Linked DNA regions of Homo sapiens: regions 1 and 3 are each linked to region 2. Evidence: fine-mapped expression QTL. A gene starts in region 2. Each other region holds a variant in brackets. All regions are shown on one strand. Distances are between the middles of the regions.

Evidence for each region. PIP is the estimated chance that this variant, and not a neighbour inherited with it, causes the effect.
Region 1: its variant is fine-mapped to the expression of ADAMTSL1 in left ventricle (GTEx, PIP 0.96).
Region 3: its variant is fine-mapped to the expression of ADAMTSL1 in tibial nerve (GTEx, PIP 0.91).

What each region holds. Positions count from the first base shown.
Region 1 is chr9:18,623,484-18,633,957 of GRCh38, forward strand. The region is part of intron 5 of ADAMTSL1 (ADAMTS like 1); the gene reads left to right. Among named protein-coding and RNA genes, the nearest start is that of MIR3152, 55 kb to the left of the region's middle. The variant G/A (reference allele first, on the strand shown) is at 5,802.
Region 2 is chr9:18,467,909-18,478,382 of GRCh38, forward strand. ADAMTSL1 (ADAMTS like 1) reads left to right here and starts at 6,245. Exons shown (of 29, transcript NM_001040272.6): 1 at 6,245-6,387. The coding sequence starts at 6,325.
Region 3 is chr9:18,714,710-18,725,183 of GRCh38, forward strand. It overlaps ADAMTSL1 (ADAMTS like 1), which reads left to right. Exons shown (of 29, transcript NM_001040272.6): 15 at 6,827-6,956. It also overlaps the pseudogene RAP1BP1. Among named protein-coding and RNA genes, the nearest start is that of MIR3152, 150 kb to the left of the region's middle. The variant A/C (reference allele first, on the strand shown) is at 5,397.

The DNA of each region.
Region 1 (10,474 bases), 160 kb after region 2:
GGTCACAGCCCCGCTGATAGTCTCTGTGGTGGGACATTTGCAAAGCAGATAGATGGATCAAGGGAAGGTGCCTCAGATGTCTACCCAGTCAGGTCCTGCTAGGATAGATGGTACAAGTTCTCATGGTACCTACGCCAAAAATTGAGTCATTAATCTGAGGCATTTTATGATACACAGTCTGACAATCACTATTCTAGGCACTGCAGCAGATACAGATAGAAATAAGACAGCCCTTGTATTAAGGACATGCATTTTTAGAATTATTTTGACATTGCTTGGCATATTGTCTCCAGATTTTGCTACTATGCAGAATCCTTCAATAGATCCCTGACTGAGTATTTCTTTCCATATGTCTCTCTGGTTTGGGAAATGAGAATGAATATCTTTACTGAATGTGTTTTGTTATCTTTACTTGCTGACTAGCTGGAGGAAAACAATTGACATATGGAGAGTTTGTTGCTTTAAATGGACTTATAGGTCAAGGAAGAAAGGCAGATGCAGTTATTCTGGTATGCAGTGGAGGAATATTCTCAGAAGTCCTGAAAAGGCAGCTTGCCAAAGGATTAGCCTCGAGGTAAAAAGAGGAGGCAGAAACAAAGAATGGGGACTTACAAACACATGAAAAATTGGAGATACCAGTTTAGGGAACTCTGTACATTCTAACTCCCTTGGAAACAGTGGAAAATGTAATTCTGCAAAAAAAATAAAATAAATTTAAAAGATTCTGGCATATAGAATAAAGAATGAGGTAACTTAGACATTGATATAACACATTCAGGTGAGATTTTTCTTTGGTCATGTGGGTTGGTAGCTTCTTCCATAAGATGAAAAATTTCTAAAGTTAGAAGATGGAAACCAGAAATGGATAGAGGCATAATTCTCTTGTAAATCATGGTTGGATGTTAGAAAAGAGTTACATTTAAAAGATCACTCTTAAGAACTCTTCATGGAATGCTAAAAGAATTAAAATCCTCTAATTATTTCTGGCATGTAACTGAATCAGTGTTCATTATCTAGGAATCTAGGAATTACTGTTAGGTACAAAAGGAAATGTCATGCATGTGTGCAGTGATGGCTGTATAGTGTCCTGGGAGCATGTTTTTAATGGTAAAGGTGCTTCTTTATTCTCATGCCCATACCTTCTTGTTCTCATAGAGGATCTAGACTACTGTGCTCAGATAGACATTCCTCTTACCCTACTGTTAGGGAGGGATGGGTGACCTCTAGGGCCTGAATCACAAAACAAAGATGGAGAAGCTCCTAAGGAAGAAACTGAAGCAAATTGAGAGCCCTATATCATCTCCAAGTCTGCAAATAAATACCTCAATGAAAAGTGCCCTATTCAAGACCGACAGTAGGTAAATTATATAATACACAACCTGATGATTATACATACTGACAAAATGGAATTGATTCGTTTACCTTAGCACTGATGATGTCTCATGACAAAATGATTGATATCAATAAAGCCCACCATATGCATGCACCTCACCACAATCTATAGCAGATGCTGAACAAACTGCCTCACTTATGTTTCTCTACTCTGGAAGAATCTTCCATCTTATATTTACAGACTGTGAGGCGACCCACTGGCAGGGAACATGAGGCTGCTCTGCAGGGCCCAGTGGAGAAGCCAGGTGAGCAGTTCTCCACACCTGGAGGAGTCCTGCCAGATCTCTCCCCTGTCTTCTGCCAAAAGGCACTGTCAGCTCGCCACATGCTCTCTTCAAACTTCTGGCACTCAGATTCCCCACATTGAACTCACTTTCTTTCTGAACTTATATCCAAGTTTTTTTTTTTTTTCCCTTATGTTATCAAGCCTCAGAGGAACAAAGCAAAAACAGGAAAGTGGAGAAAAACCATGGTAGAATGTGCCAGAAGGATAAAGAGAAGTAGGAGAAGTTTATCAAATGGCTGCCATTTGCTGGTGATTTTTAAAAAATCATCTTTTTATTAAAAGACATTACAATTGCCTAATACAAATACAGACAATGGAAATAGAGCAAGATCAAAGTACTCTTTCTCCTTTCTTAAAGGAAAAGACTACCCACTGGTAGCACTCAGCCTTTTCATTTTTTCTAGTTACTTCTCAACTCCCCCAACCCAATAAAAATAGTCAAATATAGCTGACATTACCTTGCTTTTGATTCTTAAAATTTAAAAGTTCATTTCTCACAAGATTTATTGACTTATACTATGTTCTATATTTTCCAAGTATACTCAGAATATTCTTAGGGCTAGAGCCAGCCTATTTGCTATCAATTTGATATTTCCAGCTTTGCAGAACTCTCGTCTGTATCTGTATGTTTTGAAATCACCTGGAGATCCTAAAGCTCTCTCTCTACCTTTCTTGCATGGTGAGGTCACTTAACTCACTTATATCAAGATAAAATTAAGCTTTTAATACTTAAAAATGTGCTTCTCAGACTGTGGCTTATGCTGACGTATAATGGCTATGGGTAAACATATTCTTGGACTATCATTCTAGCTCAAAGATTTTGAGGTAAAGTACGCTTATAATAAAACACAGGCCTCTATGTTATAAAGTACAAAATACATATGGATTTTTTAAAGAAAGCACAAAACACTAAAGAAATTTCCACCTGCCCCTGGCTGCTTTGGGCTATCCTCACAAGCCACTCAAGGATATATTCATTCAACAGCACATATTTAATGGGCACCTGCTATATGCTGAGGAACTGTTCTAGGTGCTGGAAACAGCACAGAACAAAACAGACAAAATCCATTTATCTTCCTAGGAGCCATGGAAAAAACAAACCAGAGCAGGAGAACAGGAAATGGGTATAGGCTGCCAGCCACAGGTGATGCAGGGGAGCTGCAATTTTCAGTAAATTAATAAAGAAAGGACTCACTGATAACATGGCATTTAAACAAGGATCTAAGGGAAGTGAAAAGGGGTCACCATGCAGAAGTCAGGGAGAAGAAAATTCTAGGAAAAGAGAAAAGCAAGTGCAGACGTCCTGTGGTATTTGCATTCGGGATATATTTCATGAAGAACAAAGAAGCCAGTGTGACTAAAATGAGGTGAGTTTCAAAAAGGCTAGAGAAAATGATATGAGGCTGGGGGAAGAATGGCACAGATATTGTGGGGTTTTTTGTAAGTCTGAATGAAATGGGAAGTTGTTGGAGGATTTTGAACAGAGGAATAACTTGATCAGATTTCTGCTATACTGAGAATAGACTGTAGTTGGAAAGATATTACACTAAGCCAGGCCACAGATGACAATGGCTTGGACTGTACCAGTAGCTGTGGAAATGATGAGAAGTGATCCAATCATAGATATACTGCACCTGTATTTATTTTCTTTCTTTCTTTCTTTCTTTCTTACTTTCTTTTTCTTTCTTTCTTTCTTTCTTTCTTTCTGTCTTTCTTCCTTCCTTCCTTCCTTCCTTCCTTTCTTTCTTTTCTTTTTTTCTTTTTCTTTCTTTCTTTCCTTTCTTTCTTTCTTTTCTTTTCTTTTTCTTTCTTTCTTCTTTTTTTCTTTTATTGAAACAGGGTCTCACTCTGTCACTGAGGCTTCAGTGCAGTGGCACTATCACAGCTCAGCTCATTGCAGCCTTGACCTCCTGGACTCAGGTGATCCTCCCACTTCAGCCTCCCCAAGTAGCTGGGATTACAGGTGCACACCATCATGCCTGAGTAATTTTTGTATTTTTAGTAGAGATGGGGTTTTGCCATGTTGGCCAGGCTGGTCTCAAATTCCTGGCCTCAAGTGATCTGCCCACCTCAACCTCCCAAAGTGTTGGGATTACAGGTGTGAGCCACGGCACCTGGCCACCATTTTAAATTTTAGCCATTCTTATCAGTGAGTAGTGGTATTTCATACTTGTTTTTATTTGCATTTTCCTAATGGCTAATAATGTTAACATCTTTTCATGTTGTATTATCTTGCAATTGCTGCTGTAACTAATTACCACAGACTAAGTGATTTAAAGCAACACAAATTTATTATTTTATGGTTCTGGGGGCGTCAGAAAACTGAAATAGGTTTCACTGGGCTAAAAACAAGGTGTTTGCAGAACACAGCTCTGGAAGCATTGAGGGAGTATTTCTCTTTCTTCAATTTTGATTTTCCTGCTCCTGGAGCCTATGCACATTCTTTGGCATCTTCAAAGTCAGTAGCTTAGCATCTTCAGATCTCTCTCTGACTCAAGCTTCCTCTTCTGCCTGCCTCTTCCATATTAAAGAATGTTTGTGATTACATTGAGTCCACTCAGATCATCCAGGATAATCACTTAATTTTAAGGTGACCTGATTAGCAATCTTAATTCCATTAGCAACCTTAATTCCCCCTTGCCACATAATATTACACATTCACAGATTTAAGGACATATTTGGCAGGGGAGAGGGATACATTAGTCTACTTACCACAGTGTGCTTTGTTCATCTTTTGCATAGTGTCAGTTCAAGTCTGTTGCTCATTTTTAAAAAATGTGTTGCTTGACTTTCTCTTGTTGAGTTTTGGGAGTTCTTTATATATACTAGGTACAAGTCCTTTGTGGGATATTTGAATTGGAAATATTTTCTCCATCATAGCTTTTTTATTCAAAATTGCTTAATGTTATCTTTCACAGAGCAAAAGCTTTTCATTTGGATGAAGACCACGCTATCATTTTTTTTCTTTTACGGCTCATGCTTTTAATGTCATGTCTAAGAACTTCTTGCCTAAGACCAGGACACAAAGATTTTCTCCGTGTTTTCTTGCAGAAATACATTTCACCTTTAGATCAGTGACCTATTTTCAGTTATTTTTTGTATAAGGTGTAAGTTTGATAGGTAGCTTGAATTTTTTTTCGTATAGACGCCCAATTCTTCCAGTACCATTTGTTGAAAAAGACAGCCTTTTCTCTTTTGAATTGTCTTTAAACCTTGTCAAAAATCTATTGCCGTTTCTCTGAGGGTCTGTTTCTGGACTCTATTCTGCTATGTGTCTGTCCCTTCATCAATACTCCATTTTTTTTATTACCGTGGCTTTAAGGTAAATCTTAAAATGTGGTAGTGTGATTTCTCCAACTTTGTTCTTGTTTTCAAATTCATTTTGGCTATTCTATTCTGGGTCTTTGTCTTTCCATATAAATTTTACTATCTGCTTGTCCATATCTACAAAAAGTCTTGCTGGGATTTTTTTGTGTTAATTCTACAGATTGATTTGGAGGGGGTAGGAATTGACATCTTTAGCATGTTAAGTCACTCAATCTATAAGGTATGAGAATTTTATGTCTCTGTTTACTTAGGTCTTATTTTATCTCTTTGATTAGCCTTTATTAGCTTTCAGCATGAAGATCGCATATACTTTATATGATTTACATCTGTTGTATTTTTTGTAACTATTGCAAATGGCATTATATTCTCTTTTTTAAAATTAGAGATGAGGTTTCACTATGTTGCCCAGACTGAAGTGCAGTGGCTATTCACAGATGTAATCATAGCACACTACAGACCCACATTCCTTAGCTCAAGTGATCTACCTGCCTCAGCCTCCCAAGTAGCTGGGACTACAGGAGTTACTGCGCTTGGCTTGGCATTGTATTCTTTATTTCCATGTCCAATTATATATTCCTAGTTCACAGAAACATGATTGATTTTTGTGTGTTAGCCGTGTATTATGTAAACTTGATACACTCACTCAATACCTCTGAGTTTTTTGGTAGATGACTGGGATTTTCTCAATAAACAATCATGTTGTTTACAAGTAAGAGTGGTTTTGCCTCTTTTCAATTTGTAAGCCACTTTTTTTTTTGTAGTCTTATTGTACTGGCTACGCATGCAATACAATAGT[G/A]AATAGGAATGATGACAATGGAGGTCCTTATCTTATTCCTAATCTTAAGAGGAAAGCATTCAGTTTCTCACCATTGAGTATGATGTTAGCTGTAGGTTTTTATAAATGCCCTTTATCAGATTGAGGAAGTTCCCTTCCTTTCCTGGTTTGCTGAGAGTTAATAACATGAAGGGATGATGAATTTTATTAAATTCTCTTTTACCTCAACTGACAAAGTCCTGTGGTTTTTCTTCTTTAGATTGTTATTGTGATGAATTACATTAATTGGTTTTTAAATAACCAACTCTGCATTTCTGGGATAAAGTGTACTTGGTCATGGTGTATTATTCTTTATATAGATTTCTAGTTTGATTCGGCAGTATTTTGTTGAGGCTTTTTATCTGTGTTCATGAGAGATACTGGTCTGTCGTATTCTTTTTTGTATTGTCTTTGTTTGGTGTTAGTATTAGCACAAAATGGCCTCAAACGATGAGTAGAGAAGTAATTGCTTGTCTTCTTTTTTTCTGGAAGAGATTGTATGGAATTGAATATATTTATTCTTTAAATGGCTGCTACCATGCCCCAGTGAAATTTTCTGGATCTGGAGATTTATTTTTCAGTATGTAACCTTATGAACTTATGGAACACCATTATAGTAACTATTTTAATATCCATTCTGTGTTTGGATTGATTGATTTTTCACTTTAATATGTGCTGTTTTTTTTGTTTGTTTGTTTCTTTGCGTGCCTCATTATTTTTTGACTTGATGCCAGACATTACAAATTTTACTTTCTTGGGTACTAGATATTTTTGTATTTCTATAAATATCCTTGAGCTGTGTTCTGGGAGCAGTTAAGTTACTGAAATCAGTTTGAACCTTTGGGGTCTTAAAATGTGGTAGACAGGACCAAAGCCATGTTTGGTCTAGAGCTAATTGTACCCTTTTACTGAGGCGGGACCTTTCTGAGTAGACTACTTAATGTTCCATGACTTACAAAGTTTGTCACTTTGGCTGATGGGATAAGATACTATTCTCAGCCCTGTATGAGCACCGTGTACTCTTCTCTATAATTCTTTTGTGTAGTTCTTTCCCCAGGCCGGGTAATTTCCTCACACTTATGTATTGATTAGTATGCTGCTGGCTACTTTAAGGAAACCCTCTTGGGTGTCCAGAGTTGTCCTTCTGTATAGCTCTCTCCTTTCTGTTACTTTGTCCCAGAAATTCTAACTGTTTTTGTCTCCTTGGACTCTTGGCTTTGTCTACTCAATTCAGGGAATCTACTGAGCTCTACAGGTCTTCATACTTCCAAAGCTGTAGCCTAGGAACTCTATCAAGGCAGTAAGCTGGGGCAATGTTGGGCCTTATCTGATGTGTTTCCTGAGTATACAGAATTGCTGCCCTTTTTTGCCTGATGTCCAATATCTTAAAAACCATGGTTTCATCTGACTTTTTGATTGTTTTAGACAGAATATTAAATCTGGTTCCTGTTAGTTCATCTTTGTCAGAAGCAGAAGTCTTGGTGCTGGGCTTTCAATTCAGCTCTGCAATTACATAGAGCTAGCCAACTTTTGACTCCTTCTACGACAATGCAGTTAAGCACCTGTAATTCTGATTCCTCATCTCCCTACAACCTCCACAGCCATTTGGTTCCTAGAGGTTGAATGTGTTCCAATATTGTCTTATAATTTTCTCCCAAGCGGCTGACACTCATTTTGTGAGTTTGATACTGGCTGTTTTGATGTTAGCACCTGTGTAGGCAACGGTATCTATGTCAGGATTATCGCCTGAGTGAGAGGGAATATAAGATACTACTGATTGTGAGATGTATTCTGATTTCATATATGTTAAAGCATGAAAAGTTGTCCCTCTTGGAATCAATGAAATAGGGTATTTTGACAACAGAACTTTTTAACTGATTACATATAAAGATGAAGTAGAGGATGGCTCCAAGTTTTCTGGCCTAGGCAAATGGAAGGATGAAGTTCTCCAGATGGGAATGAGGAGGGCATCTTGTTTGGCCTGTCCAGTATATATCTTCTATTGTGCAATTACAGATAAACCAGGGAGAAAATTGAAAGCCTCAGATGCTCAACTTCTTATTTTGTTGGATATATTTTAAGAGTAATAAAACCGTCACGAAGATGTAAAACATACCATTTAAACCTCCTCAAGATTGGCAGACTATTTTTATACATAGTCAATTGTATTTTAAAATGACTCTCTCATTTTTAAAAATAAAATAAAATAAAGTGTCAGCTCCATAGGCATAGAGGGAAGAGTCTTTAAAAACATGAACTCATCAACGGATCTAAAAATAAGATAAACTCAGATATCAGAATAGGAAATTCTGTCTTTCAAAATATTATCCTCATCACCTTTCTCTGACACAGCTGTGAATCACGCAGAACATCCACATATGACAAGATTTTAAAATGAATATAAAATATTCTATATAGAAAGTTGTGTGATATACATATAGATAGATATTTTTTAAAGAATACTTTTAGGTACAGTCCTTGGGAAGAATTTTCTTGAGAAAAGACATTTGCAACCCATATCTGTGAAATGACAGAATTTATGATTCCCATGGAAATTTTGTTCATTGAATGGAGAAATGGGTTATCTGGTATCTGAAGCAGATCATTTAGAATTGTTGATTAATAAGCTAGAAATATGTCCTGAAGACTGGCATCATGGTTCAGTCAACAAAGCCAGAATAGATTAGGGCAGATGCACTCAATCGTAAAACAGTGTGCCTTTGTAGGAAAGGGCACCCAGAGGAATGTGCAGCACGGTGGGAGAGGATGTGGCCCCTGCCTCGCCAGCTATACTAATGGCATTAATCACCAAGGAGGCAGGTGTTGCCACCAGATTGCTCTCACATCCTAAGAGATCTTAAACACCACTCTGTGCACAATATTGTAATAGATGCCAAGTAGAAGCATCTTCCAATCCATCCCAAATCATTGAGGATTTATCAGAAAGTGAGACAATTATTAATACATAAACAACTCAAAAGTGGCTTTTTATGAACATGCAGAAAATGAAATTTTTAATTGTTTTCCCTATTTTGTTTTTTGTTAAATTAAGAGTACTGTTCCTTAAAGTATGTCCTAAGATATATCAGCTGATTTTAACAGATGACACATAAGAAAAAGTTTTTATGGATAAACATCTTAGGTATACACGGGGTTAAATAGAGTGAAATGGGTTTCTTTGGTGCAGTGCTCCTAAAAAAATGAATGAATATGCTTTGGGAATTTCATCTGTGGGGTGTAGTATTTTGTATTTCCCCCATATTTTATCTTAGATCCCTTTTTCAGGACCATCTCGTGGGGCTAGTGCTTTGTTTATCTTCTTTGTCACTGAATCCCTAGTACCTAGCATGGAGCCTGACACTAAAAGACACTCAAAAAATACTTGTGGAATAAAGTAATGAATTTGCAGATCGTTTAATGTCTGGCCAGGGGTCCATCAGCCCTTTTCAGAATAATATATAAGAGAAGGCTGTGGCTCTTCCTACTTCTGTGCCATGTGCTGCCAACTGCTAGAGTTTGTACCAGCCTGACTTGCTTCATTTCTCTTTGACTAGGTGAGTGCAAGGGGCATCAGGAAATACTATTTCACCTGGTCTACTTTCTCCATATACCCTCTTCCTCAACAACTTTCTAGGAGGTTCTTCTCCTCTCTTTTTTGGGGGTGCATGCTAATGTTACCACACCCTGTCTTCTTTAGGGAACATACAGATATTACAGCATCAGCCAAGAGCTAGGGTATTAATGTTCCAGTTTATGGAATGTGAGTCACTTCCCAGCAGAGCAAGAGGGAGGCTGCATGAGCTGTGTGTGGGTCAGAAGACTGCTGCTGAGCATGGCAGGGCCAAACAGAAAGCTTTCCTTTTACTTGCACTTTATTTGAACTGTGGGTAAACAAAGACTTTCTATTTCTAGAAAGTCCCATTGTTTTAACTGCTTTGAGTTTCTTTTGCAAACTTAAAAAGTCATGTCTTTATGCAAGGCGTTTAAAGCTCTGTAGGCCCAGTCTCGGCCGGGTGTGGTGGCTCACTCCAGTAATCCCAGCATTTTGGGAGGCCGAGGTGGGTGGATCACAAGGTCAGGAGTTCAAGACCTGCCTGGCCAAGATGGTGAAACCCCGTCTCTACTAAAAATACAAAAATTAGCCGGGCTGCAGTGGCAGAAGTCTGTAATCCCAGCTACTTGAGGCTGAGGCAGGAGAATCACTTGAACCCAGGGGGCGGAGGTTGCAGTGAGTCAAGATCACAATCATGCTACTGCACTCTAGCCTGGGTAACAAAGTGAGACTCCATCTCAAAAAACAAACAAACCAAAGAAGCTCTGTAGGCCTAATCTTAACTTTTTTTTTTTTTTTTTTGGTTCCTTTTCTATATTCCCCTTACACTTTTTTCTGTTGTTGTTCTTATATACCACAAATTCTTAGCTCTCTGAAATTCAACAATGTATGACATTAAAAACAGCTATAAGATTTTGTCATGAGTGGAATATTCAACTTTGTAGAGAACTCGATAATGTAACCTCTCCAGGGAAGGAATTGGGAGCATATGATTCTTTTTTCTCATTCAACAGATAATGTGCTAGGGGCCTTGGAGAGTTGAAACACTATTTAAAAAAAAAATAGTTTTTCAATCCCTGTCCTTTAAGAGATTTGGGGTAGA
Region 2 (10,474 bases):
CACCTTATTGTCTGGCTCTGGTATAATTGTTTTATCTGTGGAGGATGATGTCATGGAAATAGAACTGAACTAGGAATTAGGGGCCTTGGATTTATGTATTACACTTGGGTTTACTATATGAATATTACAACCATAATTCAAACCTCAACAATTAAAATGATAAGTTTCTCTATTTCAAAAAGGCTACAAAAGACAGTTTATTTGTTGCCAAGATTCTCTGTAGCATTGTGCATTGCATACAGTAGGTGCTCAGTAAGTGTTTGTTGAATCTAATTCAATAACAAACCTCTGAGATCTGTGCCATAACTTCAGCAATGTAGAAAAAAGAAGATCAAGGACCGCAGGTTTGAGGGTACTGAACAAGTCTATCCTCCCGGTTCAGTTCAATGCTCTGCAATGAGTTCTGTTTTGTTTTGTGTTTTGTTTTGTTTTGGGGACAAGTATCTTTGAATTTGAATCTAAATTATGATAATATTTTTCCCAGAGTTTCATTAAATCTTTCAAATGCAGAAAAATTGAGAGACATGTCCAGTGGCTACTTCTATACCCACCACCTAGAATGGTACTGATTTATTATCTCCTACTTGTATCAGGCTCTGAGCTAAACACTCTACAAACCTCTCACTCTACTGCCCACAACTGCCTGACGGTGGTGAACATAACTCTCATTGTCCAAAAGCCTAAAACAGAACAAGCCAGCAAACAAACAAAAAAACCCTAAGCTCAGAAAGTTTCAGCAATTTATTTCCTTAAATCCCTTCGAGTAATAAATGCAACAGCTAAGATTTAAACTGTCTGGCTCCAAAAACTGAGTTCTTCCCATGGTACCAAACAGCCTCCAGAATTCCTTTCTTCTACTGACTGGGGTCACAGATTTTAACCAAGCACCTACAGTATGAGAAGCCCTGAATTAAGTCTTGTAGGGAGAACCGTAAGCCGAGGCCCTTGGGGCTTCTGCCATTTGGAGACGAATCAGATCAAATTTTACAATTGTGGAGTTTGTCACGTAAGCAACATGCTATGCTAGACACTTTGCAGGGAAAGAGAGGAAGACCATGGGACAAAGAATCTAAAATCATATTTTTTGCCCATTACACAACCTGCAGTAGTGAATCAGATTGAGTAAAAGCAGGAGTCTTACCTTTCTCTACTTTCTCTCTGCTTACTCTGTTCTCCACAGCTGTAAAGCCTTTCCTTAGTTTCTTTTCATTACCTAAAAGTCTGTGTATATCTCAAAGCCTTCTTCAGTTTCCATTTTCCTCTACCAAACTCCTCACTGAGTCCTTAAATATGCATTGACATCTCCCTTCTCTGAATTCTCATGGCCCTTTGCTTTACAAAGAGTCAGTATAGCTTAGTGGTTATGAACACAGATTGCTTGGGTTCAGATCTTGGCCCTTTCCCTCTTTGGAGATATGATTTGGGCAAGTACTTTAATTCTCTATGCCTCAGTGTTCTCTGTTAAAGGGGGTATATCAGTTGGGATTCTGTTGCAAAGAACAGAATTTATTCTTGCTAATTTAAGCAGAAAGTGATGTGTTATAGGATATTAAATAACACATAACATTTGAGTTACCAAAGAAAAAGACTCCAACTTGAGCTCTCTGAAGATTCCAGTGCTGCTTTACAGAAACACATCACCATGGGAGTTGCTGCCTCTTCCACAGCCAGGAAGTCATCTGCTGCTGAATGGAAAAGCTGCATGAAACAGCAAGAGCTGCAAGGGCCATGCCCACCTTCCCTGATCCAGCTAATAAATGCATGTCCCATGCCTGCCTCTTGACACCTGCAAACATAGCAACTGGTTAGCATGGTTACAAGAAAAACCTCATTGCTCTGTAGCCATTTTTACAAGCAGACAGAGCAAAGTGTAGTAGCTTCTGCCTCACTTCCTCCTTCCGAATTTTTGTAGTACTTCAGAGTGGCTAGTTCTCAATTCCATCCAGTACCCTAGCTGCAAGGGAGTCTAGAAAATGTTGTTTCTGGACTTCAGGCACTGGTTGGGATGAAGGACTGCTAACCCATCATTAAAAACATCTATGTGAAGTTAATAAATGTACCTACCCCATAGAGTTGTTGTAAGGATTACGTGAAATAATAAATATAAAATACTTAGAAAAGTGCCTACACATGGGAGACTCTCAGTGTATGTAGCTATTTTCATCTGTCAGCGTCTCAGATGGTAGTCCTGGGGAAAGTCAAACAGCCTTTGATAGAGCCCCAAATTTCCTGCCTGCTAATAACTTTGATGAACCCATTTTCTACGTAGGAGGACTGGTTTCCTCATCTGCAAATTGGGGATAATAATCACTCTCTAACTCCTAGAGTTTCTGTTCATATCACATTAGATCATGTGTGAAAGGTGATTTGAAAACTATAATGAATGCTCTAATGGCTTTGGTGTTAAATAGATACTAGGTGAGTTGGCAAGTTGTGGAGTAATGCTCAAATTTCAGTTCTGCCCCTGAGAATAGCAGTCTGCTTCCTATACTTTTATCTTAGTCGCCCTTACTTTATTTTTCAGAATTAACCAGGGAAATCGAACTTCACTGCATCCCTGTGGGGAAAACAAGGCTCAGATGCTGCCATAACCACTTCCTTAAAGAGGGGAGATTAGGCCCTGCCTAGCTCTTGAAATCCTCCCAGCCCTGAGTTCTTTCCAGGAGACCCTGTGTCCCCTATACACTGGTTTCTGCAGCTGACGGGCTAAGCAGAGAGGCTCAACCTGAAGAAAGAGACAGGTGGCTCCAGAGCAAGACTTGTAACGAATTCTCCCCAGGGAGAGAAATACCGAAAGTTTAGCTCACTCTTTCCTCCCATAAAGCACACTGAATGTTAACAGCTTGCTTCTGTCCAAGCTGGTGTCTTTTCAATTAAGTATTGTTAAATCCATACCATTTGGAATGATGCTTCAGACAGCCCTGACACTCTCTCTCTCTTGCTTCTGATTTCATTTCACCTAATATGTTGTGCATGGAGCCAGTAACCAGTATTATTCAGCTGCCACGGCTTCTGCTAGTGCTGCTGCTCACACACTTGCAGACGGTTTTAATTTAGATACCTGAAGAGGAAAAAAGGAATTTGGCCAACGCCCTGCTCAGATGCCGTAAGTGGCCTTTCCCCGGTTGCCATTAATATGGATCTAGATTACCTAAAGTTTTACATTACTTTTCCTAGGTGCTGAAAACGTTTTAGAAATGAGAAAGTCAAGACACATAGAAGCTGGAGGCTAAAATAAGATACTTTCCATCGTCAGGTAACATATACCCATGGTAAACCCTGGTAGCCTACTTTCCTTTTCCTATAAACATCCCCCTTCAACAACATCACTGCCAACATCTGAATATATGTATGTGTATACATCATATATAGATATAATGCATATATATGAATATGAGATGAGGGTGGATTTAGATTCGGTAAACCGTGGCTCAATGGCCAGTTCTAGCCAGCAAAGCTTTAGTCAAGTCACTTAACTTCTCTGAGCCTCAGTTTCCACGTACATAAAATGGGGTGATTACTTAATTTCAAAAAGTAGTCACAAAGGTCAAATGAGATCATAAATGTAAAATCACTTTGTAAACCATAAAGATGGCATGTACATTTTGGCCATCATCAAAATTAGTTCATGACCAAAACTTTTCCCAGTCACCTTAACCCAACTTGATTTTGTTCTCCCTTTTCTGAAGTTATAGTAAATTTGTAATTTCACCTGTACTGTGTAGCTCTGGATGTGCAATTGCTTTTCCTAGTTTCTCTGGGTATTCCCAAGAGGAAAGAAAATGCTGTGAGGAATCAGAAGCATGAGACAGTGTGGTGGGCATCCTCCAGGCATTCAACAGGTGATTGAGGGCTTAACTTTAAAATAGTATATTATTCGGTGACTTCATTGAGATGACCATCTTGCTGTACATTAGCATGCCCATTAAAACTTCAAGGCAGAAATTTCTGACTCAAAATACCTAGGCAGTATTTATTTGCAAAGCAGAAAAGAATCTAAACTAGCATGTAAGTGGTTCCCAGTTATTTTCTGACCATGCTGATTATTTTTCTGTTCCTCTACAAATAGTATCTCATCATTAGCTTTGTTGCTACTTTTCTTTCTCCCATTACCTATTCTTCCCTTTGGATCTGCTTAATGAGCAGGGTTTATGTGTGAAGAGGGAGGAGGTGGTATTAGGTAAAATGTTCCATTAATAGAACTAGCTGAAACTCTTCAGTTAATGACTGTGATAGGAGGGAAAAAAATAAACCCTTTAGCAGAAAGCTCTGGTGTGTAACAGAGAGACACATGTAACATAGCTTTATGAATGAAAGTTTATTTCAATCAATCACCTTTCTTTAATGTGATGAGGATTTCAGACAAAAACAATAGTGGAAAGACAAAGTTAAGCATTTTTACATCTACTTGTGAATACGCTTTAGCTTATGAGCATTAGCTAGTTTTTGAGAGATTTGTAAAACAAATCTTTCTAAAAGGGAAAAGCATATTTCAAGAATGGGCTCTCTTTGTTATGGATTTGTACTGTCCATTTTTCTAGGTCCACATACTTAATATTGAGAACAAAGGATAATCTTTGTATGACCTTGACTTTCCTAACAGCATGAAAATAGGATTTTTAAAGTTTCTCTCTCTTTAATTGATATACCATATGAAGTAGGTAACCTAAAGTTGAACAACCTGCTTTTCTTCACCTTTTTGAAAAGCAACGCAGCAGGTATGTACATAGGCAGACCTGCCTGTATTCACATGCCCATTATGGCTTGATCAGGTTTTCCATATTCGTGTGTTTCATACCTCTTGTCAGTATTTTTTAATAATGAAAGGAAAGAACATTAATTCTAAATGTCTTGTACCTCCACTGCATATATTTCTGGGCTATCAGGAGATCTGAAAAGGGAAAACGTCCTGATGACACACCTATGGCAATGTAAGGCCAGGGCTGCTCTTTTATTCTTTCAAAACTCAATGATTTCCTTTGCAGATAAGGGGAAATACATCCTTGTTTGACATTTGACACTTTTCTAAAACTGTAATAAAACCTTCCTCTAGTAGAGTCAAATCTCCCTTGCTGGTGGATTAAGCAGCTTCAGAAGCTTCCTGACCTTCTCGTTGCTGTTGCTGGCCTTGTCGTCATTTCACTGCTCATTAGCACTTCCTTCAGGGCTGGACTGGCCTCCAAGGTCATCCCATCCAACCCTCTTGCAATAGTGGATGGAAAAATGAGGTAAAACTCAGTTCAGCCTTTTCTGCATTATAACAGCTCTGATAAAGGACGTGGGTGAGGTGCGGAGGAAGCTGAAACTTGGTTAAAAGAAGGTTTGGGGATTAACTGAGGATTTAATTCATCCTTTCTTTCTCTCCCGTGGCTAAAATAGATAGTTGAGAGTTGGCAGTGCATCAAAACCAGGCTGCTCCTCAACCCCAAATTTCAGCCCCACTCATCCTGGAGTCTTTGTTGAGGGTTTCTTTTTAAACTGGGGGATCTAAGTTTCTAATTGTGCCTTTACAATTAGCAAATCTTAAATGCCTTCAATTGTCACTTTACAGAGAAGCAACTTGCTTTGTTTTTTTCCCCCCAAATTAAGTCCTTAATAACACAAAATAACTTATGCCACTGTTTAGGCTTAGTGAGGAACCTTCAGAAAATGTATAGAGTATTTATTTTGCAAGTCAAGAGAGAAAGTAAAGAGGAACTTTATGGAGGCGAAATAAAACAGTTGTACAGAACACATTTACAGGGCACATTAAGTCGGTTTTTGTCTATGGTTCTTTCCCTTTATGGCATATGTTATATATTGACAGGGATTAAGTTTCTCTCCTGAATGGAACAATACACAGTCACAGGGAGCTACTGTACTTTACAAAGCAACAGACATCAGCACAGGCAAATGGCAAATAGAAATGCATCTCACAAAGAACTAACCAGGTCCATGGGAAGCACAGTGCTTGGCTTCATCTTTTGCAATTCTGCATCTTTTGCATTTCCCTTCTCGCTCTGCTGCTCGCTCGCCTTTCTTTTTCGTCCTTTTCCCCCTTTTTTGCTCGCACCGTTACACTTTCTCTGTCCTCCTGGCTTTGTTATTCAGCATGTCTGATTAGCAGGAGCCTGATTGGCTGGCTGCCTGCTCCGAGAGAGATTCCATTCAGCTTACCCCCCACCCATCCACCCACCCACCCCTCGGTCAGGAAATGTGAGAGGGGCTGATGGAAGCTGATAGGCAGGACTGGAGTGTTAGCACCAGTACTGGATGTGACAGCAGGCAGAGGAGCACTTAGCAGCTTATTCAGTGTCCGATTCTGATTCCGGCAAGGATCCAAGCATGGAATGCTGCCGTCGGGCAACTCCTGGCACACTGCTCCTCTTTCTGGCTTTCCTGCTCCTGGTAAATGCCTTTTCATTTCAATGCATTGCTATTGCCATTGAGTCTGGGTGCTGTTGGGGGTGTGTGTGTGTATGTGTGTTTGTGTGTGTGTGTGTGTCTTTATCTTAAAACTCCAGGTAAAATAATTTACACGATTACAAAGAGAGAATACTCCTTCTAGAACTTTTAACCTCAACTTCCCAAGCAAGATAAAGTCTGCAAGACTTTCTGGAATTAGTTACTGCTATACAGTAATACTGATACTGAGACATGAACTTTGGGACATACTGCATGGAGTTTGGGAGCTGAGGACTGTATATATGGTGGTGTGTATGCTTGGAATTTGGATAACAGACATCCTGAAATTAAACTCACTCACTGTGGTGTTCCTGGAATTTTTTGATGGATAGGCTTTGCAGAGCTTGCCCGTACCGCCTTTAATGAATTACTTTCCATCTATGCACATGTACTATGGAACCAGGTAAAGAGGGGAATGAGAGCCTCTTTGCAGCCAACCCAGATTATGGCTCTTAATTACTGCAAGTCATTTATGGATAGAAGTTAATGCTAGGATTTATGAATTGAGGATTATGGCCTTTGATCTCAAATTTACTTTTAAAGAAGAAAAAGGAATGGTGACTTTTAGTACGGCTGATTGCCACAGTCATAGTGATAAGATGCTCTGCTCTTGAACGTCAGTACACATTGCATTTTTGACTCGAAGTAAATGTTCCGTTGTGACTCATACTTGGTTTTATGGGCAGAAAATGAACATTTACTGTCCAAAATAAATCTACACTCAAAATATTAATAGCAATGCACATTTTTTAAACCAGAGTGTTCTGGGCAGGCAGCTTAGTAAACCTCATCTGAAGGTTTGATTCCAAAATTTGCACACACTGATCCAAACAAATGTGATTGTAGTTTTTCCTGTCACATTTATAACATGCCAGAACTTCCTCAGAAGGTAACAAGGCAGGAAGAGAACAAGGTAAAAATGTAGCAAATGAATAGGTTGCATTGATTCCTTGATGGGGAAGGAATGTTTGTTCTGATTATATTCTGACAAATCTGATCTGCGCTATAATTTTGAAGTAGGGAAGAAAGCCATTTGGTACAAACTGAAAAAGTCCAGGAGATTCATCAAATAGAGTAATCAGACAGTGATTCAATATTTTATACATTCCCACTTCTTAATGATTTGCATCATTGTAGCTAAGAAATTATAATGCTGCATTGCAAGTGCTATAAATATAGAAATAAATTTTTAATTTTTCATAGAAATTTAAAGGTAAACTACATTTCAAGCATGAATGAACTATAAGTTTTAGCTGTTCTGAAAAATACAAAGAACAGAATGTTTAGGTATGCTTTATGACTTGTGGAGCAAGCGATTTATGAAAGGTGTCTCATTTTTTCCATATGGGATGTGTTACTTGTATACACCATTAGTTTGTCTCATCTTTCCTTCTTTGTGATTTTTTTAAGTGTGTGTTATTTTCCCATTATATTGCATCATAAAGCAAATTACCAGTATACATTACTTTTTTGATATTTTCATATGGAAGTATGATCTCATTATACTTTAGTAAAACTTTCCCATTCAGGAATAGATTGTTTTGCTATCCATTTGGTAAACGCATTATATCCCTCTGTGATATCTTGAATATTCATATATGTATTAGAGCATATAATTTGACTTATGTGGAATGAAAAGGTATGTATGCTTATTTCAGAAGGACTTAAAACATATCATATTTAAATTACAATAATTGTATTATAAAGATAAAATTAAAACAAACCTAGGTTTGTTTTATGCCTGCATTTAAATTAAGTGGAAATCTGAGAGTTATGCTACAAAAGGAAGAACTGACTGATGTTTACATACATCCCTTTGCCAAGCAATAACAGCATTAGTAATAGCTGTCATGTATTTTGTGTCTGAATGTGGCTAGTTGTTTGAAAATCATTACAATAAATCCTTACAATAATCATACAGATAAGACATTTTAAACCCGTTTTTTCAGGCAATGAAATAAGCTTGCATTTGAACCCAAAGGTCAAATAATGGAGAGAATAGAACATGTTTGCTTCGTATGGTGGTTGTAAATATTTAAGAACAATGAAAACAGTGGTGCAGGTTGGTCTGTACCCTTTGTTGCAGATATTTAGGCTTTCTGCATCATCTTGATCATTAAAGATATGTACAATATCATGAGCACTTGTTAAACTTGCTCATTAACTGCCCCCTTTAGCATTAAATTTAATTATTGGCTTAAGAGATTGTGACCTTTAGCCTGTTGTGTACTTGATTTAGAACTAGAAGTGTGGCATCATCAGCTCAACCTTCAAACTTGATAGAGAAATTGAATTGAGGGGCTTGTTTTTCCTATAGTCTTTTTTTTGTTTTTGTTTTCATTTACACATTGCAAGGATTCTGTCTATTCTTGGACTTATTTGGGGCAATTTCTAAAGGTCTCTGTAACTTAATTGGAAAACATCCTGTCTATTTTGTGGCAAGCCCAGTTTCTACCTTATTAAAATATCCCTCATTTCACTGACAGCTGAATCATCTGTATCATGACTAGGTTCTTGAGTGTGTACAAATATTGAAGGTTGTTCAGCCTTCATTCTGTCAAAATCCTTTCCCCTTGGAACTTATTTCTGAGAGGATGGGTGTTGAATCTATTTTACGTTACCACCCATATTTTCATGCACAGAACTTATATCATAAATTTATATTCTGGACACAGTAGGACAGTAGTACTGATCAAGAGATTTCATTTGATATTCAGGTGAAATTAAGCTACATAATGCCATTTTCTCAATCCTCCCATTCTGCTTTCTCGTATTTATTCTCTCTCCTTTGTCCCAATTGTTTAGCTCAAAAAGAATGTGGCAAAAACCATGACCGGCCATTGACATATGTGTCCATCTACACTTGAAGTCAAATCACTTCTTGTCAGAAAGGCATTTAATCAAATTTGCATTTGCCTTTTGTTTCTTTTAAACGGTTTTAAGCTCTTTTGCCTGCTATTGTGAGAGTTGCAAGAGTAACACTAGGAATTATAATAAAGTACATGTGTTTTCCTGTTGAATTTCTTTTTCTTCTCTGTACTAATTTATACATGGCAACTAGTCAAACACAATAGCCCATTCCCTTCAGTCCCTCTGGCACTCTCTCCCACTATTATCTAAGTGGATCTATCTTGGATGGGGAGAAGCACCCTTAGCTTGTGGAATGAATGTTAAGTCCCTTATTTACAGGAGACCGCGGCCTGTTCCAGCAGCATGTATGTCAGTGTGTTCATGTGCATGCACAAGCACTTTTCTATAATTGTTCACTCTACACAGATTTCTTTTTCTCAGACCTAGATTGTCTTTAAATCAAGCTTGAAGACTTTTCGCATAGATCTACAGAACGCTATGAAGCATTTAAAATTTAAAAATCACTTTCTTCATGTTTTTGTGAAGTTTCTTGTCTAGACATGGCCAGCTACATTTTTGTTTACTCAGGCTCCTGTTTTTAGTGTTTCAGTGTGTTCAGGACCACTTTCTGGCCCCCATTATTATTTTCACATAACACCATTTCTGTTGCTTCATATAAGTTGAGGGAAGAGTGTCCAATAGTGGTCACTAGTGAACTACAGAAGAATCTTGTTACACCAGGAAAGTTTTTCCTTGAAAAAGCATATGGAAATTGAAGTCTTTTGAGAGACAAAGAGAATGAATAAATAAATGCATGTATGTATTTGTGCATTTGTATGTTTTAATACATGTTGATGCCCATTTACTATTATGTATGTATAAATTGGAAAGCAGTCTTCTAACACACCATGGAGTAGGCTATTACTCTAACTTAGGAGATTCACATCTCCTAAGTTGATTCTATCCTACTAACAATATTACAGTTAGGGTTTGCAATTTTTATCAGTTAAGTGTCGTTAACTCTATACAAGTTACTCATGTTTTTTAAAAACTTAGTTTACTTGGGCTGTATTTTGCTTGGGGATTATATTAGCATGAGACATGGTCTGGTGTTTTGGTTCTCCCCTTTATTATGGCTTACTCAGAATATAATTTTAAACTCTTCCAGGAAAAATACTGG
Region 3 (10,474 bases), 250 kb after region 2:
TCAATAGAAAAAGAGGGAATCCTCCCTAACTCATTTGATGAGGCCAGTATCATACTGATACCAAAGCCGGGCAGAGACACAACCAAAAGAGAGAATTTTAGACCAATATCCTTGATGAACATTGATGCAAAAATCCTCAGTAAAATACTGGCAAACCAAATCCAGCAGCACATCAAAAAGCTTATCCACCATGATCAAGTGGGCTTCATCCCTGGGATGCAAGGCTGGTTCAATATATGCAAATCAATAAATGTAATCCAGCATATAAACAGAACCAAAGACAAAAACAACATGATTATCTCAATAGATGCAGAAAAGGCCTTTGACAAAATTCATGCTAAAAACTCTCAATAAATTAGGTATTGATTGGACGTATTTCAAAATAATAAGAGCTATCTATGACAAACCCACAGCCAATATCATACTGAATGGGCAAAAACTGGAAGCATTCCCTTTGAAAACTGGCACAAGACAGGGATGCCCTCTCTCACCACTCCTATTCAACATAGTGTTGGAAGTTCTGGCCAGGGCAATTAGGCAGGAGAAGGAAATAAAGGGTATTCAATTAGGAAAAGAGGAAGTCAAATTATCCCTGTTTGAAGATGACATGATTGTATATCTAGAAATCCCCATTGTCTCAGCCCAAAATCTCCTTAAGCTGATAAGCAACTTCAGCAGTCTCAGGATACAAAATCAATGTACAAAAATCGCAAGCATTCTTATACACCAACAACAGACAAACAGAGAGCCAAATCATGCGTGAACTCCCATTCACAATTGCTTCAAAGAGGATAAAATACCTAGGAATCCAACTTACAAGGGATGTGAAGGACCTCTTCAAAGAGAACTACAAACCACTACTCAAGGAAATAAAAGAGGATACAAACAAATGGAAGAACATTCCATGCTCATGGGTAGGAAGAATCAATATCATGAAAATGGCCATACTGCCCAAGGTAATTTATAGTTTCAATGCCATCCCCATCAAGCTACCAATGACTTTCTTCACAGAATTGGAAAAAACTACTTTAAAGTTCATATGGAACCAAAAAAGAGCCCACATTGCCCAGTCAATCCTAAGCCAAAAGAACAAAGCTGGAGGCATCACACTACCTGACTTCAAGCCATACTACAAGGCTACAGTAACCAAAACAGCATGGTACTGGTACCAAAACTGAGATATAGATCAATGGAACAGAACAGAGCCCTCAGAAATAACGCCGCATATCTACAACTATCTGATCTTTGAAAAACCTGAGAAAAACAAGCAATGGGGAAAGGATTCCCTATTTAATAAATGGTGCTGGGAAAACTGGCTAGCCATATGTAGAAAGCTGAAACTGGATCCCTTCCTTACACCTTATACAAAAATCAATTCAAGATGGATTAAAGACTTAAACGTTAGACCTAAAACCGTAAAAACCCTAGAGGAAAACCTAGGCATTACCATTCAGGACATAGGCATGGGCAAGGACTTCATGTCTAAAACACCAAAAGCAATGGCAACAAAAGCCAGAATTGACAAATGGGATCTAATTAAACTAAAGAGCTTCTGCACAGCAAAAGAAACTACCAGCAGAGTGAACAGGCAACCTACAAAATGGGAGAAAATTTTCGCAACCTACTCATCTGACAAAGGGCTAATATCCAGAATCTACAATGAACTCAAACAAATTTACAAGAAAAAAACAAACAACCCCATCAGAAAGTGGGCAAAGGACATGAACACAGACTTCTCAAAAGAAGACATTTATGCAGCCAAAAACCACGTGAAAAAATGCTCACCATCACTGGCCATCAGAGAAATGCAAATCAAAACCACAATGAGATACCATCTCACACCAGTTAGAATGGCAATCATTAAAATGTCAGGAAACAATAGGTGCTGGAGAGGATGTGGAGAAATAGAAACACTTTTACACTGTTGGTGGGACTGTAAACTAGTTCAACCATTGTGGAAGTCAGTGTGGCGATTCCTCAGGGATCTAGAACTAGAAATACCATTTGATCCAGCCATCCCATTACTGGGTATATACCCAAAGGACTATAAATCATGCTGCTATAAAGACACATGCACACATATGTTTATTGCGGCATTATTCACAATAGCAAAGACTTGGAACCAACCCAAATGTCCAACAATGATAGACTGGATTAAGAAAATGTGGCACATATACACCATGGAATACTATGCAGCCATAAAAAATGATGAGTTCATGTCCTTTGTAGGGACATGGATGAAATTGGAAATCATCATTCTCAGTAAACTATCGCAAGAACAAAAAACCAAACCGCATATTCTCACTCATAGGTGGGAATTGAACAATGAGAACACATGGACACAGGAAGGGAACATCACACTCTGGGGACTGTGGTGGGGTGGGGGGACGGGGGAGGGATAGCATTGGGAGATATACCTAATGCCAGATGACAAGTTAGTGGGTACAGCGCACCAGCATGGCACATGTATACCTATGTAACTAACCTGCACATTGTGCACATGTACCCTAAAACTTAAAGTATAATAATAATAATAATAATAATAAATAAAATAAAATAAAATAAAAATTTTAAAAAAATAAAAAATAAAGAAATTTGAAAAGTCTGCCCATTTCCTTCCCAACAGATATTAAAGGCAATCTGTTGAAGACATTATACTGAAAGGACTATCATATTTTAAAGACAAGATCACTGTCTCCATAGGTTTTTGAAACATTTTTAAAAACTATATAGCTGTATTAATTAGAGCACTTATTTTCTACAATAATAGTGACCTTAAATTTCTTTAAAAAAATTACAATAAGCTACAAGTATCAAAGAAGCAAAGTCATCTAGAGTAGTCTACATAGGAGCTCTTTGGACTTTGTTTTATTATGGTAAAATAGTGGTGCTTTTAGGATTTACATTATTGTACTCTCCAATACAAAGTATGAGTGAGGGTTAGAGTATACAGTACACCATTTTCATACATGTACAACGTGGGTGGATGAAGAATGTCTCTTAGCAGTAATACTGGATGTAGTCTCTGCTTTTACCAGCTGCATAATCTAGGACTATTATATAAGTAAAAATCTCTCTTGTGAAGCTTGAAAGTGATTAGAATGTGCAAACTGATATAGTAGCTTTCATATGCTCTTAAAGGGTACCACCACAGGAAAGTCCATTTAAGATGCTGGTAGGTTTAACAAAGTTGGAGTGTTGGCACTATTGAATTGGACAACAGTTCTTCAGAGCTGACTCAGAGCTGCAATGCACTTAGTACATTAAAGCAGCTGACATGATGACTTTTTGCGAGCCTTCCCAGGCACTGGAGTTTTTCTGTTAATCTGCCGCACTAGGTCATAAAAGATCTCATTAACATTTATTTTGAATTTTGTAGAAGAATCTAAGAATGCACAGTTGTTCCATTGTCTTGCTAGATTTTTGACCTTCTTCCTTCCCTACAGCTCTTTCATCTTCCAAGTCATACTTATTACCAACAAGAATCATTGGAACATCATCAGTGTCTTTAACTCAAAGAATCTGTTCTCTCAAGTCTTGCAAATCATTAAATGTGGACTGTGCTTTGATGGAATAAACTAATGCAAAGCCTTGTCCATTTCTCATGTACAAATCCCTCCTTGCTATACATTGTTCCGTTCCTGCAGTATCCAAGATTGCAAGCATACACTGCTGTGCATCTACTTCAACTTGCTTTCTATAAGAATCTTCTATCATAGGACATATTTTTCAACAAAAATTCCTTGAACAAATTGTACATTCAAAGCAGACTTTCCAACGCCTCCTGGGCCAAGAATGACTAGCTTATACTCATGCATGATGCAAACTTGTCGAAACCTAGTACCTCTCACGCTGTCACCGGGTTCCCGCAGCCAGTGTCACTCCCTCCGGGTTGCTACTCTCGGCACCACAGCAGTCCTGCCGCTGCCGCCGCCGCTCCAGCTGGTTTACACACCTGACTCTGGGCGAGGTTTGGCATTGTCCAGAAGGGCCTAAGTTCTATCAAGAAGGAGTTCACAAAGTGGAAACACAGGTCACATCACTTACACACCTTCACACACACACCTGATCCAGTCACTTTCAAGTAAAGCATGTGACAAGCCCACGGTCACTTCCTGCCTCAGGATCGTTGACCCAATTTCATAAGGTTTTCAACAGCTGAATAAAGGCAAAATATGTTTTATTTTAGAGTCTCATTTAGAATCTCTTGAATACTACCAAACAGGTAAATGAGTTAAAAATTTAATTTCTAAGATAACCACAGCTCTAGATTCTGTATGGGATAGAAAGCTACATCCAGTGACTTCTCATCACTACCTTAATAATACTAGACTATTCCAGTGGGAAGTATCAGTGATTATATCAACTGTTTCTTATGAAGTGTTTGGCTGTGTCGTCATACCATGAATTTCAAATGGCTCATCCCATCTACAACCAAGAGAACACCCTGCAGTCAGCATTACAGAATATGATGGAATAATTTGAATGTCTAATAGAAATCTCAAATGCTCCACCCTGAACTGGCCATGATATATTTAAATTAAATTTTGAAGCTCATAAACAATTTAGAAAAAAGAAAATGTAAAGATACCATCACAGCCACAGGGTAAATATTGTGATTCTTTTTTTATTTTTATTTTTATTAATTTACTTTTGAGACGGAGTTTTGCTTTTCTCACCCAGGCTGGAGTACAATGGTGTGATCTCAGCTCACTGCAACCTTCATCTCCCTGCAACCTTCACCTCCCATGTTTCAGCAATTCTCCTACCTCAGTTTCCCAAGTAGCTGGGATTACAGGTGTGCACCACCATAGCTGGCTAATTTTGTACTTTTAGTGGAGACGGGATTTCACCATTTTGGCCAGGCTGGTCTCGAACTCCTGACTTCAGGTCATCCGTCCACCCTGGCCTCCCAAAGTGTTGGGATTACAGGCATGAGCCACTGTGCCTGGCTTTGTGGTTCTTTTTTTTAAAAAATGTTTAATTTCTCAGACTTACAAAGAAGAAAGGTGATTTGGACTCCAGCTGAGTCACTTTTTAAATGATGGCCTTCCTAAGTGGACTAGATCAATGTCACATCAACCTAGGAAGTATTAGCTGATGATTGAGCTGATGACTTCTTGGAGAAACACAGCATACGTGGGAGGAGAGCAGCATGGTGGGTCAACTGTACTATACTAGGTAGTATCTGATGAAGCAATGCAGAAAATAAAGCAAGGCAATATATGTGTATTTATGTATATTGCTAATTACATGGATAGTCCCAGACTCTACTATAACTATATATAAATGTCCAGCTATAGATAGGTATCTTTAAATGTAAGTATCTTTATATACACAGCTATGTATGTCTGAAGGCAAATTAGTGAGAATGTCCTGTCTTGCCTCTTCACTCA[A/C]ACTGAGCTCTGCTGAAATGATTCCAGACAAATGTCTAGGTTATTCCTAAAGATCTCCAGGGAAGTAGATATGACAGCCTCTTAATATTTTTAAATATTAAGTCTATCAGTCAGTACTAAGGGCACAGCCATCCTCAGCTTTACCATTTACAACTGTATGAACTTAAGCAGGTCTTTTCACCCTTCCCAGCCTGTTTTCTTATCTGTTAAATGGGAATAAAAATAGTGCTTACTTTGTGCAGTTGTTGAGAGGACTGAATGATGCATGCCAAGCTCTTAGCGTTGGTACCTGGTTAATAATGGGCATCCTGTATATGTTAGCTACTGTTATTATGACTGGGCATCAAAATGAAATGTCTGGTCATTACATTGCTCATTTAAATGTCTCCACAAGGGGACCAGGTGCAATGGCTCACGCCTGTAATCCCAGCACTTTTAGAAGCCGAGGTGGGCAGATCACTTGAGGTCAGGAGTTCGAGACAGACTGACCAGCATGGTGAAACCCCATCTCTACTAAGAATACAAAAATTAGCCGGCCATGGTGGCACACGCCTGTAATCCCAGCTACTCGGGAGGCTGAGGCAGGAGAATCGCTTGAACCCGGAAGGCAGAGGTTGCAGTGAGCTGAGATCGTGCCACTACACTCCAGCCTGGGCAAGATTCTGTCTTGAAAAAAAATTTTAAAATAAAATAAAAATAAGTGTCTCCCCAAGGGCCCTGCAAACCACCTTGGAGAACTTCCCAGTAACCTTGTGCCAGTCACTGCTCAAACTCCTGTTTCACTAGCTCTGAGTCAGGGCCTGCGGGTGTCAGTGGGAAGGTTGTTTTCCACGGCTGTGGTTATTATGCATCTTATTCTCCTTCTTTGTTCCAACTTCCAAGGCTGCCCTAGGTCACAAAAGAAATGAACCAGAATCAGAAGGCAAACAGCAAAGACTGGAGTCCTAGATTCAAGACCTCAAGAGCCCAGCAGTTTACAGAATTCTGGATATAAAACATGGCCTTGGGCCTCCCTTCCAAATACAACGATTTCCTTTCAATTAAAATATAAGATGTGAAGGTTTTGGGCCCCTTTTTTGCCACCCTGTGCTCCTTGTTCATTGAAGTATCATGTTCCAGCATTGGTGGCATTAGCCTCGTGGCATTTTTTTAAGCATTTCAAGAGTCTAGGTAGCAGCCTCTCTTCTGTGGGGGAGTTGCCCTCCTCAAGGAGCATGCTCACAGAGGCAACAAGCTTATGAATACTTTCTCCCAGCTCAAGTGATGCTTGACAAGATTGGCAGTCCTGGGCTTTAAACTGCCATCTCTGACATACAGCGAGAGTCCTACAGAACACAGGGACCTCCCACCAGCTGCCTTGTCTACACTTCATCACCCCCCACACACACACCCACTTTGCACTCTGGCCTGACCGTGTGATTTGTACACAGGTGTCCAGGAGGCTGTGGTGAGCTGCTTGAACAAACAGACTCGGGAGCCTGCTGAGGAGAACCTGTGCGTGACCAGCCGCCGGCCCCCACAGCTCCTGAAGTCCTGCAATTTGGATCCCTGCCCAGCAAGGTAAGGGATGTGTGGCCTGCCCTGCTGTCCAGGGGCACGTACAGAACTGGGCGCATCTTTCAGTGGGCAAGACTGTAACACTTATTTGTTACTCAGTGTTTTGAAAACCAATTAGCATCAGTTCAAACTTTTAGTCAAATCCACTTAAGTTTAATTGAAACCAGGGCTTTGGAATTCTAGCCCAGTCAATGGTCATGCCAGAATCTGGAAGATACCGTGCATTCACTTGAGCCTGTGGCATGGCTGGTATGTGTGTGTGCCACGCAGTTGCTTTCCCCTAAAGGGAACATGAGGTGACAACAGACTTCATGGGCTCTGCCACCTTTTAGCCTGTGTCCTAAGCACTCACACCATAGTAATGAACTGGTCTGTGAATTGCAGAATATAAGGGCCTGAAGCAACTGGGTGGTATAATTGATCCACTGTGAAATCTATATGCACACAGCATGCAGATTCATCGTAGCATGCTCTGGGGGTGTGTGTGTCATTCCACATGCGTAAAATCAATTAGAGCATTTCATTGTTCAGCCCTGCCTGGGTCTCATTATTAGCCAACATTGAGTCACAGCCTTGATTGAATTAATCAATCCAATCACTGCTTCAGTCCCTACAATTTTATGGTGTCTTGAGAAACTTGCCTTCTAGATACTTCTTTTTGAGCAAATCTCATCTATGGGTTTGGAAGGGAGACGTTTAAGAACTAAATCCAGACTTTCAAATCTGCTGATGGAATGAAGAAATGTTGCTGAATAGGGTCAGATCCTAGATAAAAGGGGGAATGCTGATTTTGAATGATAGTTTTTCTCTTTCTGCAAAGTGTGTCATGTAAGAAGTAGTTAATACCTGTATTGCTGTCAGGCATTAACAATAGTTTGCTGGTCACGATGATGCACTGCTTGTATTATTTCCCAGCTGGCTAGATTCCTTTCTTTGGGACTTGGAGGGTACAGATCATAGTCCTCCTCCAATCACATGGAGGCACATCCCATGGTGACACTCCTCCTGCTAGTCACCAGAGTTGTTCTGTATGATGATCTGAATGGTGGACCAGGGCATTCCCCTCTTCAAATACAGAAGTTAAGAGGGCAACTCATGCTATATTCTCCAAGGCAACCATAAAATCAGTCAGCCACTGCTTTGGAGAAGCACCCAACCCATGAGAACAGCAGTCAACAAGATAGAGTCAAAGTCAGGTCCTGTACATGAAATCCTGAGTAACCTCGTTTTCTATCCCTGCCCCACCTGGTTCCACATTTCTGTCCTAACTTCGCAGCTCTCTAGTTGTTGAGCCTAAATGTGTGGGCAAAGGGCACCAACTTTTCTATTTGACTACAGTCCTGTCATCTAGGAAGAAGCAGTATCGACTCAGCATGGAACGCCTGCAACGTTCTTTGTTAGGCAACCAAGAGGCCTGGCTTCTCATCCTGCTGTCACCAACTAGCTCTGTGGCCTAGGGCGAGGTGTCTGCCCTTTATGTTTCCACATCTGCAAAGTGAACTGGTTGTACCTGATGATCTGAGATCCCATGACTTGCTCACATGTCCCATGATTCTTTATTTTGTAGGCAGAAGCATTAAACAGCTACTCCTGCTGCTGTGTGCTAATCATTCCTGTAATTTCTGTTCTGCTTATTTGCCATTATTTGAAAAACATGCAAAAGGGTCTTTCTAACCACATTCCTGTGTTGTAACAACACCCAAATGCTGAGGCAGTGCCGAGGAGTCAGTGCCTGGGACTTGCTTAAAACTGCTGGGACTCGTGGTCCCTAAACCCTTCTTTGAGCACCAAAACGAATAGGACATGAGATGTTACTTCTCATTCTCAAAGTACTAACTATGTTTAAGTTACAAAAGGTTAGGTTATCCTGTGACCCTTTTGTTGACTCACAGACAAGAACAGTTGTTGAGCTTAATGTTGTCGCATTTGCTCCAGATAAACTCAATTCTCTGATTTCCCACCAGCCAGCTGTCAAGCCAACAGGCAAGACCTCTCACTGGGCACAGCCAGGAGTTTCTTGGGTCGACCATACACATTTAAACATTTGTAGAAGGTTGCTAATTGCAACAATAAAGGGGACCAAAGTATAATGGCCTAATCTCATCCAAGAGTCAAAACAGATTTTCCCCCTAAAAATGATAATTGTATAGAGGTGCCTTTCCTGTGGAATATCTCACTCTGATGTCAGAGAAAAATCTCTCCTTCCCTTCTCCTGGTGTTCAATGTATACAGAAAATAAAATGTGTTTGGTAGGAGCATAATAGTGTGTTGTTTTCCCACACAACCCACAACCTCTGTTCTGTTGGGAGCAATTTAGGTCTTTAATTCACAATTCTTACTCCACATGGTTCAGCGTTCCCTGTACATTTTTGTGTGTCTTCTGATGGGATGCAAGTTTCTAGACCGTGTCCTTTGGGGTCTTGGTCTGTGCTGCTATGCATGTGTTTAAAAAAATACCATAGCATTTTCAGTGGGACATAACAAAATGACATTTCAAGTCTTAGTCACTGGGCCTTTGTCTCTGAGAGGTCACCCCCTGGTTAAGATAAATAGCTTTCCCAGGCAGTTGTTAGTCCCACTGAACACCAGTTAGGGAGCCACTTTTTTTCTTGTATGTAGTCAGAATTATCAGATCACATGGAGAATACCAAAGGCCCTAGAGGGCAAGTCCAATCTGCTTAGCCAGGCTTTCTAAGATTAAACTTGGCTTCTCTTGACTCTGTGTGATGGCAGGGATTGTTTCAGAAGCACATGTCTAACTTTCACCAGGTTTAGGCAAATACATCCTCATACCTGGTTATTCACAATAGGAAGATGTCTTCTCAAGCTGGAGGTATTCTGACTGTTCCAATTTGTGTGTTTGTGTGCATGTAGTGCCTACATTTTTTAGAACACTTTTTAAAAATAGTCATTTTCTGTTAGAAGAGTACTAGATTTTAGAGTTCTTGCTATCAGCTTTGTGTCTGAATCCTCCTTTCTATATTTCTGACACCTAGTATAATGTTTGACACATAGTAGATGATTATTAAGTGTTTATTATATAAATGAGTATGAAGGACCAGGGCCAAATTTATAGGTAGCAATGTTTGGACCATATTATCAATGACAGCTGGGAAGACCTCAGTGCTTTCCCTCCTCTGCATCCTCCTTATCCCTTCTCTCCAACCTTCCAGATGCTGTTGATCCTTTCCTTAAGCTTAAGGATTTAAATGCCAACTTAAAACATAAATAGCCTCAGGATTGAACCTTTTTTTTTTCTTTTGAGACAGAGTCTCGCTCTGTTGCCCAGGCTGTAGTGCAGTGGTGAGATCTCAGCTCACTGCAAGCTCCGCCTCCCGGGTTTACACCATTCTCCTGCTTCAGCCTCCCAAGTAGCTGGAACTACAGGCGCCCACCACCACGCCTGGCTAATATTTTGTATTTTTAGTAGGGACGGGGTTTCACCATGTTAGCTAGGATGGTCTCGATCTCCTGACCTCGTGATCTGCCCACCTCGGCCTCCCAAAGTGCTGGGATTACAG